2 separate regions of the Homo sapiens genome follow, and region 1 is linked to region 2. The links come from fine-mapping of genetic effects on gene expression. A gene starts in region 2. The other region holds a variant in brackets. All regions are shown on one strand. Distances are between the middles of the regions.

Region 1 (5,371 bases), 26 kb after region 2:
CCTGGGCAACAAGAAAAAAAACTCTGTCTCAAAAAACAAAAAAACAAAAAATAATAAACACAAATAACTTGTGGATTTGGACAAGTTACCTAACCTCTAAGTCTTGGTTTCCTCATCTGTAAAATGGGTCCAAAATAGTACCAATTTCATAGGTGTTTTTGAGGGTCAAAGAATGGTATAAAAGTAGCACAAATACCACAGCAGCATGTAGTTTTATTTGGCTGGAGTTCAGGAAAGTGAGTCATTCGTCCAGGAAACGTGTATTTCTTATTGGCCAGGCACTGCCAAGATGCTCTTGGAATGGAAAGATGAGTAATCCATGACCCAAAACTCAGAACTCAGTGGGAGGATTGCACTCTAGTAAGCGTAGGGTTGCAGGTGACACGAAGGAAGGGAACCTCACTTGGAATAGGAAGATTCGTCACACTTCTCAAGTGACCCTCGGCGGGGGTGGTGGTGGGGGTTCCTAAAGGATAGTGGGAACCAGGCTGGCATGCAGAACCCAGAATGAGCTGTGACCTTTGATGTCTTCTGAGCCAGGAGTGGTGGGGACTGCAGAGGAAGGCCCTGGGGTGCCCTCGCAAGGAGCTTGTCTCCAATCCATGGGGTCTGTGGACCAAGGGTCTTGGGGTTGGAGGTTCGTTGAGGCTGTGTAATGTTGTGACCCCAAGGGTCTTGGGGTTGGAGGTTCTTTGAGGCTGTGTAATGTGTTTTCAAGTCAGTGATGAGACTTTTTAGTCAGAAGCGTATCCTGCATGCCACCAGAGTCAAATGCTGCCAGGAGACGTCAGTGCCAGGGTGTGCGCTTAGGTTTGGGGTTGAGGCCAGATAAAGGCCACATGAGGTCTTGGGGTGCTGGGTGATCAGACGTTTTGCAGTCATTTGAATAGAGTGGCATTTCTCAGACTCAGATCTGGGTATATTTTTAGGGGTGAAGCAACTTTTGCCTTTTAAAGAGGATGTGTGTAGTATTCACATTTGGGAAATACTGTTACAGGTGGGGTACAAAGTATGGCTGGAAAGGTGGATTGGAGTCACATAAATAGCTTGAATGCTAAGGAATGTTGTCTTTTTCACATAGACTGTGGTAAGCTACTGCAAATGTTTAGGAATACATTATTAAGATTCTGAAGTGACACTAATATTTGGCAATTGCCTAATATTAAGCAATCTGTCTCTTTTTCATTTCATTGCCTGATTTGTAGCCATTTTATTGTTTAGGGGGTCCTCTACTAGAGGTTGGAAGAAAATGTTTAATTTCTGTAACTTTATATTAGCTCTTTTTATTGTTTGTGTTTATTTGGTGGGGGCACTGTTATGTATTTATAAGTTTTATGAGGATTTGAAACTTGTTGAAATAAGATTTGGAGACAGTATGTAGATTTTGTATGCCCATCGTTTTTCTGTCTCTCATTACTAGTATTTAATTCAGTACCATTTAATAACAGATAATAATAAACACTGGAAGAAATTTTTTTTTTCAGACGAAGTCTTGCTCTGTCACTCAGGCTGGAGTGCAGTGGCATGATCTCAGCTCACTGCAACCTCCGCCTCCGGGGATCAAGCAATTCTCGTGCCTCAGCCTCCCGACTAACTGGGATTACAGGCATGCGCCACCTCACTCAGCTAAGTTTTTATATTTTTGTTAGAGACAGGGTTTCACCATGTTGGCCAGGCTGGTCTCAAATTCCTGGCCTCAAGTGATCCGCCCGCCTCGGCCTCCCAAAGTGCTGGGATTAACAGGCATGAGCCACCACATCCAGCTGGAATAAATTTTTAAAATGAACAACATCCCTGCCTTCAAGGGACCTAGGGAACTTACTAACTGCAGTGTTACAGGGACAGGAGTTAAACAGAGGTGAATGTTAAGGTTCTCACTCCGCCCTCCGTGTCCTTGATCCAGGTGATGACCTTGACCGAGGCAATGAGAGTATAGAGAAGTGGCCATTTCCCTAAAGAATCTCATAGTCTGGTGTATTAGTCCATTTTCATGCTGCTGATAAAGACATACCCGAGACTGGGTAATTTATAAATAAAAAGAGATTTAATGGACTCACAGTTCCATGTGGCTGGGGAGGCCTCAAAATCATGGCGGAAGGCGAAAGCCACGTCCTCCATGGCGGCCGGCGAGAGAGAATGAGAGCCAAGCAAAAGGGGAAACCCCTTATAAAACCATCAGATCTCATGGGACTTATTCACTACCACGAGAACAGTATGGGGGAAATCGCCCCCATGATTCAGTTATCTCCCACAGGGTCCCTCCCTCAACACGTGGGAGTTATGGGAGCTACAATTCAAGATGAGATTTGGGTGGGGACACAGCCAAACCATATCATCTGTCCTCACAGGGAGTTTGAGGGAAGGAAAAAGCTACTTAGTCCAACTTGGTAAGTGGTAAAAGGGAGCTGTACATAGAGTGCAGTGGACACAGCTGAGAGTGTGAGGGATTCCCTTTGGGCAGATGAGGGGATGGTGATGAGAAAGGGTGTATCCGTTGGTGCTGGATCTTTATCCATAAGGGAAATGTATGTCAGTAGACGATGGAGGAAAGGGTATTTTAAAATTCAGGGGCAGAGAAAATGAAGATCCCCAGAGTTTGGAAGTGCCTGTAAAGGAGATGTGAACGAGAATGGACATTTGGAGCTGGATTTTGGAAGGCCTTGAGAATTTGGATTCCTGCCTTCACACTGCAGAGAACCATTGAAGGCTATTAGTGGTTTTTCCTAGCTAGGCTCTTTCATTTTCCCAAGCACTGAGATGATGCTGCCTCGATGAGCACCTGTGACATCTCACTTGGTCTTATGAACTTACTCTATTTTAGTTTGAAAATCAGGTCTTTAAAAAGGAAACCAGCCGGGCATGGTGGCTCATGCCTGTAATCCCAGCACTTTGGGAGGCCGAGGCAGATGGATCACCTGAGGTCAGGAGTTTGAGACCAGCCTGGCCAACATGGTGACGCCCCGTCTCTACTAAAAATACAAAGATTAGCCATGTGTGGTGACGGGCACCTGTAATCCCAGCTACATGGGAGGCTGAGGCAGGAGAATCACTTCAACCCGGGAGGCGGAGGTTTCAGTGAGCTGAGATCGCGCCATTGCACTCCAGCCTAGGCAACAAGTGCAAAACTCCCTCTCAAAAAA[C/A]AAAATTCAAAAATTAGCCAGATGTAGTGGTGCGCGCCTGTAATCCTAGCTACTCAGGAGGCTGAGGCACGAGAATCGCTTGAACCCGGGAGGTGGAGGTTGCAGTGAGCCGAGATCGCGCCACTGCATTCCAGCCTGGGCAAGACTCTCTCTCAAAAAAAAAAAAAAAAGGAAACCTTATCCAAACTGTCATAAAGTTGCTTCATATTAGTCTTAATGGATCTAAATGTTCAATCTTTTTTTTTTTTTTACTCTAAAGACAGGGTCTCACTCTGTTGCCCAGGCTGGAGTGCAGTGGCATGACACAGCTCACTGCAGCCTCTACCTCCTAGGCTCAAGCCATACTCCCGCCTTGGCCTCCCAAGTAGCTGGGACTACAGGTGCACACCACCATGCCCAGCTAATTTATTTTATTTTCTGTTTTAGAGACAGGGTCTCGCTATGTTGCCCAGGGTGGTCTCAAACTCCTGGACTCAAGCAATCCTCCCACATACAGGTGTGAGCCACTGCCTGGCCAGTGCTCAAATTTTGAAATTGTTTTATTCTACTCAGTTGAGCAAACTATATTATGAAAGTCTTATGGAAATTATTTTCAGCATTATAGCAGCAACGTTACAAAACCATGTAAAATTCTACCTAAATTTCTCAGTGGAAAAAAAAATTAAGACTAATATTTGGATGTTGGATTATTTTCTTATAGGTGAATGATAATACAGAATGAGTATTACTGTCATTGTGGTAATTTTTAAAGAGCAACAGCCTTTTTGCTAGTTCATGAAAAATACCCTGATATGTATTAAACATTTGCATCCCTTAGCTCCTAACTTCACCACTTGATGTTTTTGTAACTTTTGACTCATGGACTCCAAGTGCTTTGTTCATGCATTCTTTTCTGTGAATTAGGAGATTTAAAAATATTTCTATAATTTCTCTCCACAAATTAAATTCACTTGTTAAAGTTCACGTTCCTGACTACTCTCTTTAGACTAGACAGTTAGCAAGCTTTACTGGAATTGTGTCTTGGTTTGTGGTGTTGATAAAAGCTCGAAAGGAGTGGGTGTGTTGGGGGTTTTATAAAATTGATTCTCAGTTACTTTCCCTATACCTGCTGTGAAATGAACCTCTGATGGTGATCTGTGTTTTGAGCACACTGGGTTTGGTGGTTTGTTTTTTTTTTGTCTTTTTCCTCCTTGTTTTCTCTTTGAGGACTAACTTGGCAGACGCAGCCAGGTGTGAACAGCGCTTATGTGGCTGCCGCGGTGCTTCCTGGAAGAATCATTATAAATTCGTTCAAGATCTGATTTCTTGTTGGTTTCTGTGCTTGTGAGCATTTAGAATAAAAGTCTGTATCAGTTAATCCTTTGATTATGTAAATCATTTTATTTTGTTTTCCTCTCATTTTCAAACTGAGGTTTGAAAACCAAAAAAAAAAAAAGAATTAAATATTTTGAAACATTCTAAGTGCATAAATTCTTGGTCAGGAATGAGGAACTGTCCTTAGAAAAATGGGCTAGACATTTAAAAAGGAATCTTGTAGAGCACCTTGGCCTGTTCAGCAGTTTATGTTTGTGGTTAGTTTTTTTCTCTTCCAATAATTTGGGTGGGAATAGTAGTTGCTCATCTTTTGAGATTAATGTTCTAATTATTTGAATACAAATGTTTTCTCTCAAAATAATTGGGAAGGAAGTATGAAAACAGAAAAGGTCATCTTTTGAATTCTTAAAGTTTTATGTCAGAGATCTTCACATCTTTCTAGAGAAGGAAGGTTGTAAATCATTCAGCCTACTCCGATTCTGAAATGGGGCTTTTTAAGTGTGCGTGCATTCCTGTATGTTTTATAGAGGAGGAGTTGGATGTGTGCTCATTCATCTTACTTTTTACCTCTTTCCCATCCTCTGTAAAGATAGTGGAGTGTTTTCTGTAATCACAGTGATAATTTGTCTGCAGGATAGGAATGGTCCGAGCCTGGTTTTACCTGGATTTGGGTGAACAGCCCTGTGGTCTTGCTCACTCGGGGCTGCCCATTAGGTAGAATCCATGGGAAGTGTTAAAACTGAGGAACAAAGTGTGCCCATCTTGTTGCTCCCACTGGACCCAAGGGAGAGCTCTGGCTTGTGTTTCTACACTCGCCATATGTGTATGCCAGCAGCTTTTTAACATTAAACAAAACTGTTCAGTTGCAGACTAAAGAAGGCCACCCTCCTGACCATAAAGCTCCCCGGAAGCTGCAC
Region 2 (5,371 bases):
GGCTGCCGATTCCGGTCCCTGAAGGCCTTGGACCAGGGCACAGAGGAGGGACTGCTGGCTGCAGGAGGGCCCTGTGACCTCATGCTGCTCCTCACTTCACCTCCTTCCCTTGGCTTCCACGCTTCCATTGCTTCCGACCTCGGTGTCCCCGTCTTCTGTCTCCTCCACTGGCTCTTCCTCCCAGCCTTTCTGTGTCGGAGGCTCCTGGATCCAGCATGGGTCCCATCCTCTTTCCTTCCTGCCTTCTCATGGCTTTAAATGGCCTCTAGACGTGGGCGGCGCCCAGATGTGAGCTTCAGCCCAGACTTCTCCCTTGCACTCCAGCCTCGTACCCAGGAGCCCACCTGATTCATGGATTTTTATCTCCCATACATCTTGAGCTTAGCACGTCCAAAACAGACTCTCGTTCTCCCCCAAATCTTCTATGCCCCAGGTCTTCTGTATCCCAGGGGATGGCAAATCATTCCTCCAGTTGCCCAGCTGGAAACGCTGTAGTCATCCTTGATTCTCTCTTTCTCTCACACCCCATATCCAATTTTCAGACAATCCTGCTGGTCCCACCTTCAAAGCATATCCAGAATTCGGCCACTTCCCACCACCTCACTCTATTGCCCTCGGCCTGCATCATGGCAATGGCCTCCTACCTGGTCCCCACCACGCAGCAGCAGAGAACTATTTTAAAATGTGAGACCCTGTCACTACCCTGCTCCAAGCCCCTCCAAGGCGTCCCCACCTAGCCCAGAGGGAAAGCCACAGTCCTTACGGAAGCCGGCAAGGCCCTGCTCAATCCGCTCCCCTGCGCCCACTATCTCTGACCGCAGCTCCCGCCTCCCTGTGCCCCACCAGCCACCCGGGTCTCCTCAAGGGTCACAAAACACACCAGGGTCCCTGCCTCAGGTACAGTCCCACCTTCGTGGCCCCTCATCTCCTTCAAGCCTGAAAGCCTCGCTCCTCCCCGCCTCCCCAGGGCCTGCCTGCTTTACCTTCCAACCAGCCACACCATTTACTTGTTTTTGTATTGCCCGTTACCCCAACTAGGAAGGCGAGGAGTTGTGTCTGTTCTGTTGACTGCCCTGTCCCCGGCGTCTGGGGCCGCGCCTGTCCGAGGGTCAGGTCCGACGCTGGGCATGTGGGGACTCAGTGAGCGGACCCTGGGAAAGACGGCAGCTCGGGAAGGACAAGTGGGGGCCGTCGCGGTGGAGTGGTGCCCGGGGCCGGCCCGGGGCGCGCGACTGCACGGGCAGCGTGGGGCGGCCGCGCGGGGAAGTGGCGCCCGGGAGGCTGCGGGGCACAGACATCGCGGAGCCCCAGGGACTGCCGCCGAGGGGACCGCGGGAGCTGCGAGGGCAAGAAATCCTAAAAGCGCGCGGCCGCGGTGGGCCAGGAGAAGGGACATTCCGGAGACGGCTCTCGGGGGAAGCCACGGGACTCGGGCGTGACAGCCTGCGAGAACCGAGAGGTGAGACGCGCGACCGGGGAGCGCGGCGACCGGCAGAGGCGCCCCCGCCGGGCGAGCGCAGGGGCAGCGCGGGGCGCTGGGGCCGGAACAGCGGGCAATGTGGGCACGGGGCGCGGAGGCCTGAGTGAGCGAAGAAGGAGGCGGCTGTACGGCCGGGGCTCGTCGCGAAGGGGATGGCCGGGGACGGCGGGGACGGCGGGGGCGGCGGGGGCGGTGGCGGGGCGCGAGCGGGGGCGCTCTCGGTGCGCGCGGAGGTTGGCGGGTGCGCGCCGCAGCCGCAGCGCTCCCTCTCCTGTCAGGGCAGGCGCGTACGGCCGCGAGTCGGGCGCGCAGCCCCGGGAGCGCAGTCCCGGGCGCAACCTCGCGGAACGCGCGGCCCCCGCCCCCCGCCCCGCGCCGCTCGTCCCCGTCAGCCCCGCCCCGGCGCTCTTCTCGCCGACCAATCAGGAGGCGCGACCGGCCTCCCAGCCCCGAGGCCTCGCCCCCAGCCGGCGCATCGCCAGCCAATGAGCGGCCGAGCCCGGCGCCCAGTGCGCGCAGCCCGCGCGGAGCCGGCTCAGAGCGAGAAAAGCAAACCCAACCCGTCGGGGCCGCCGCTCCGGACCCGCAGCCGCCGCCGCCGCCTCCTCCCCCCGGATCGGGTGTACTGTCCCAACCCGAAAGTCCAGTTCTGCGGCCCGGCAGCGGCGAGCGGGCGCGATGACACAGGAGTACGACAAGTGAGTGAGGCGCAGGAGTCCGGCCGCCGCGGGGGGGCCGCGCTGAGGGGCCGCACCTGCAGCGAGCGAGCCGGGCGCAGACCCGAGGCCGCGCGGGCGGGCGGGCGCGGGGCGCGAGCCGGGGGCCGCTGTCCACTCCACGCCGCCACGGCCTTTGCCCCTTAGCCCTGCCGTGCTCTTTGTTCGGTCGGAGCCTCGGGAGGAGAGACCCTGTCCTCGGGGAAACTCGACACCGGAGGGGCCACCCTCCTCCCCTCCTCCGCGGCCAGGTTGGGTCCCCTCGGGCGCGCACCTTGGGGTCCGGGCCCCCGGCGCGGTCGGGTGCGGCGCGAGGTCGGGGCGCAGCCAACGCCCCCGGGCCTCCCCGCCCCCCTCTCCTGCCCGGTCGGCCTCGGGAGCCTGGTGGGGCTCGCGCCGCGTCGGGACAGGTGGACTTCTCCAGGTAATCTGTGGTCTCAGGCTCGTCACTCGGCGACCTGCTGGAACCTCCAAAACAGAAATGTAGGGAAAGGTTGAAGTGCCCCGATGTCCGGGCGTTTTCTTTTCCCTGGCTGGCGGCATGAGTGGGAAAACGGCTGTAGGAGTTATTTTGCCACTTGCATCATTGATGGTAATTACAGATTACCGTGTTTTTAGTGCTCGAGAGAATCAAGAGGATGAAACTTTGAAATCCGGGTGTTAAACGAGAAAGTACTGTACAAGCTAATATGCTTTTTAGAGTGTGTGATTTAAAAGCGTATTTCGACAAATGTGAGGTGGTAGTGTAATAAGGCATGGGGGATTAACTGGGCGAGGGAGTTTTCTGTATTTTCTTTGCAGCTTTTCTGAAAATATAAAATTGTCCTAAAAATTTTAAAAACTTACTAAAGAAAAAACAGGGAAATCGCACCAGGCCAGTCAGTATATTTCAGATCAGGAAGTTTAAGGCAGATAGGTACCCCTCCCAGTTTCTTAGTTATTTGTGAAGGATCGGTTTTTGTCAGTGTGTTCTTTTTCTGGATGAGATAGATATTTTGTATGGAGTATCTTAAATGGATTACTCTTATGTTGTAGAATATGCAGTTAAATTATTGCCTGAAACATATTTCAGAAGTCTGAGAGATCGCAGACGCGGAGTTTAAGGCTCACCTGAAAGTGATGATGAGCCTTCGGCGACTGAAGCCTACTTCCTGACTGTCATGAGGAAGTGGACTAAGAAAGGCAACTGGTTTTGTGTTTATTTCTTGACGTATAGTTTAGATAAGGCAAATTTTCCAAAGCTAACATTTTGGCCTTAGGCAGGCTTTGGAAATATGAAACACCTTCAGGGTGATTCCAAACATAAAGCCATTTCTTTCTCTGTTTTCTATTGCTTGTACAAATTTGGGATGTGGGTGGGAGAAGAAGGGAAGTTGAAAACTAGCATTAAGGGAATTGAACAGCCAAGTGCTGTCATAGTCTTCTGGAAGTAGCTATTACGCTATTAATTATAGCTTAGCAGTACATCAGTCAATCAGTCCATGGCACCAGCCGTTCAGTAGCTGTTGTACTCTGGTCCTGATGGCTCAGGGAATGCCACTTTGTATATTTCTTTATTTTCTTTAAAGTTGAGATTTGTGTAAGCAATCTTCTCCATTTTTAGACAAATGATCTGCTGGCTTTGAACAGTCTTTTATGTTTGTTTTGTGTTAAAATAGTATACCACCTCAAGACTTTCTTACCAAATGTAACGTTTATGCCAAAACGTGAGTAAAAACATTGGCTTTCAAATAACACTTCATTTTGACTGAGGATACATTGTTGGATTTTTTTCCCCTTTTTTGAAGATGTTCTCCTTTTTCTAAATCTGTATCTGTTCTTAAAGGCCCTGGGTGACTCCCAAACGCTAACCTTTGTTGATTACTTGAAAAGATAATCAGTCTTTCTACATTCACTTTTAAAATAGGCAGGTCACCTTTAGGCCATTTACATATTTCATTTGTGTGTTGCAATGAGAGCCAGTCCTTCAATTTGCTTGTTAGAATTGTAATAATTCAGAGGAGTTCCAAACATTTAAAATTTATTTTTCTCCTTGAAAATAAACTGCTTTGTTTTGCTAGAGTCAGTGTTCCATTTTTTCTCTTTATTGACTTATTAAATAGTACCAACCGAACAGTTGTTGAGACTGTTTACATTTCAAGTTTTTGGAATTAGTAATGTTTGCTTTAATCTTTTAAATTAAATCTTCTGTAAGGTTTCACTAAGATCGCCATTGATTTTTTTGGATTTTTCCCACCAAACTACAGTGTTAAAATGAAACAGTTCTTGTGCAATGTGGAAAACTAGCAAAGATTTTTTAAAAGCCAGATTTTCCCACCTATTTTTTTTAAAACTTTTTGTTCAGTGGCTTCATTTATTGTTGGATATCCTTAAGTGTTTATCTCTAAGATAAACAGTTAACTCCCATGCCAGAAAATTATGCCTCTTTATTGATTTACAGTCCCCTTTGGCCACATTCCATGCTCAATCTGCTGGTAATCAGTAGAATATTCTGGCTTTCTCATATACCCTGGAGGATTGCGTGAAGGATCCCTTTTTCTTTCTGCTGCTTCTCCCCTCCCCACTGTGTTCAGGTAGGAATTTTTAAGGCATGGCAGCCACAGTAGAAAGAGGGAATAACATGTAGCAGTGTGATGAACGGCACACGCTCTTCTCAAGAGGGGACAGTCCTGATTGTGTGTTGGAAGAGAACAAGTATTCTCTTTTCTTTACTGTGTCCTTGTGTTTGTTTATGGAAAGTATTTGAATAGCCTGGCATTTTCTCGGGGATGGTTTTGTTTCGCTTTTTTGCCAAATAGTATACCCTGGGTTCCACGTGTAGGTGAACTGCCAGTTCTCTGGCTGCCTAGATACTTTATGTCTTACTGTGGGACCCATTGGTCTGCACTTACGTGGTTTGTCTTCTGGTCTTGTCTTAATTTGACTTCCTAGGGTCATTGATGAAACAATAGGCTATTTTATAGGAATGTCAAGGAATTGGTAGCTTATGATACCTTGCAGTAGAAAAGTGTGTGTTTTTGTTTTTTTTTTAATTTCTCTGAAGCAAACGGCCAGTGTTGGTTCTTCAGAATGAAGCACTTTATCCACAGCGGCGGTCCTACACTAGTGAGGATGAGGCCTGGAAATCCTTCCTGGAAAACCCTCTCACTGCAGCGACCAAAGCGATGATGAGCAT

What was found.
Region 1: its variant is fine-mapped to the expression of GRHL1 in whole blood (INTERVAL, PIP 0.95).

The regions. Positions count from the first base shown.
Region 1 is chr2:9,975,858-9,981,228 of GRCh38, forward strand. The region is part of intron 8 of GRHL1 (grainyhead like transcription factor 1); the gene reads left to right. Among named protein-coding and RNA genes, the nearest start is that of GRHL1, 27 kb to the left of the region's middle. The variant C/A (reference allele first, on the strand shown) is at 3,141.
Region 2 is chr2:9,949,676-9,955,046 of GRCh38, forward strand. It overlaps GRHL1 (grainyhead like transcription factor 1), which reads left to right and starts at 2,018. Exons shown (of 16, transcript NM_198182.3): 1 at 2,018-2,178; 2 at 5,240-5,371. The coding sequence starts at 2,159. It overlaps LOC105373422 (a long non-coding RNA gene), which reads right to left and starts at 1,178. Exons shown (of 3, transcript XR_922784.4): 1 at 1,030-1,178. RefSeq lists silencers at 1,249-1,328, 1,479-1,528, 1,629-1,678, 1,769-2,308.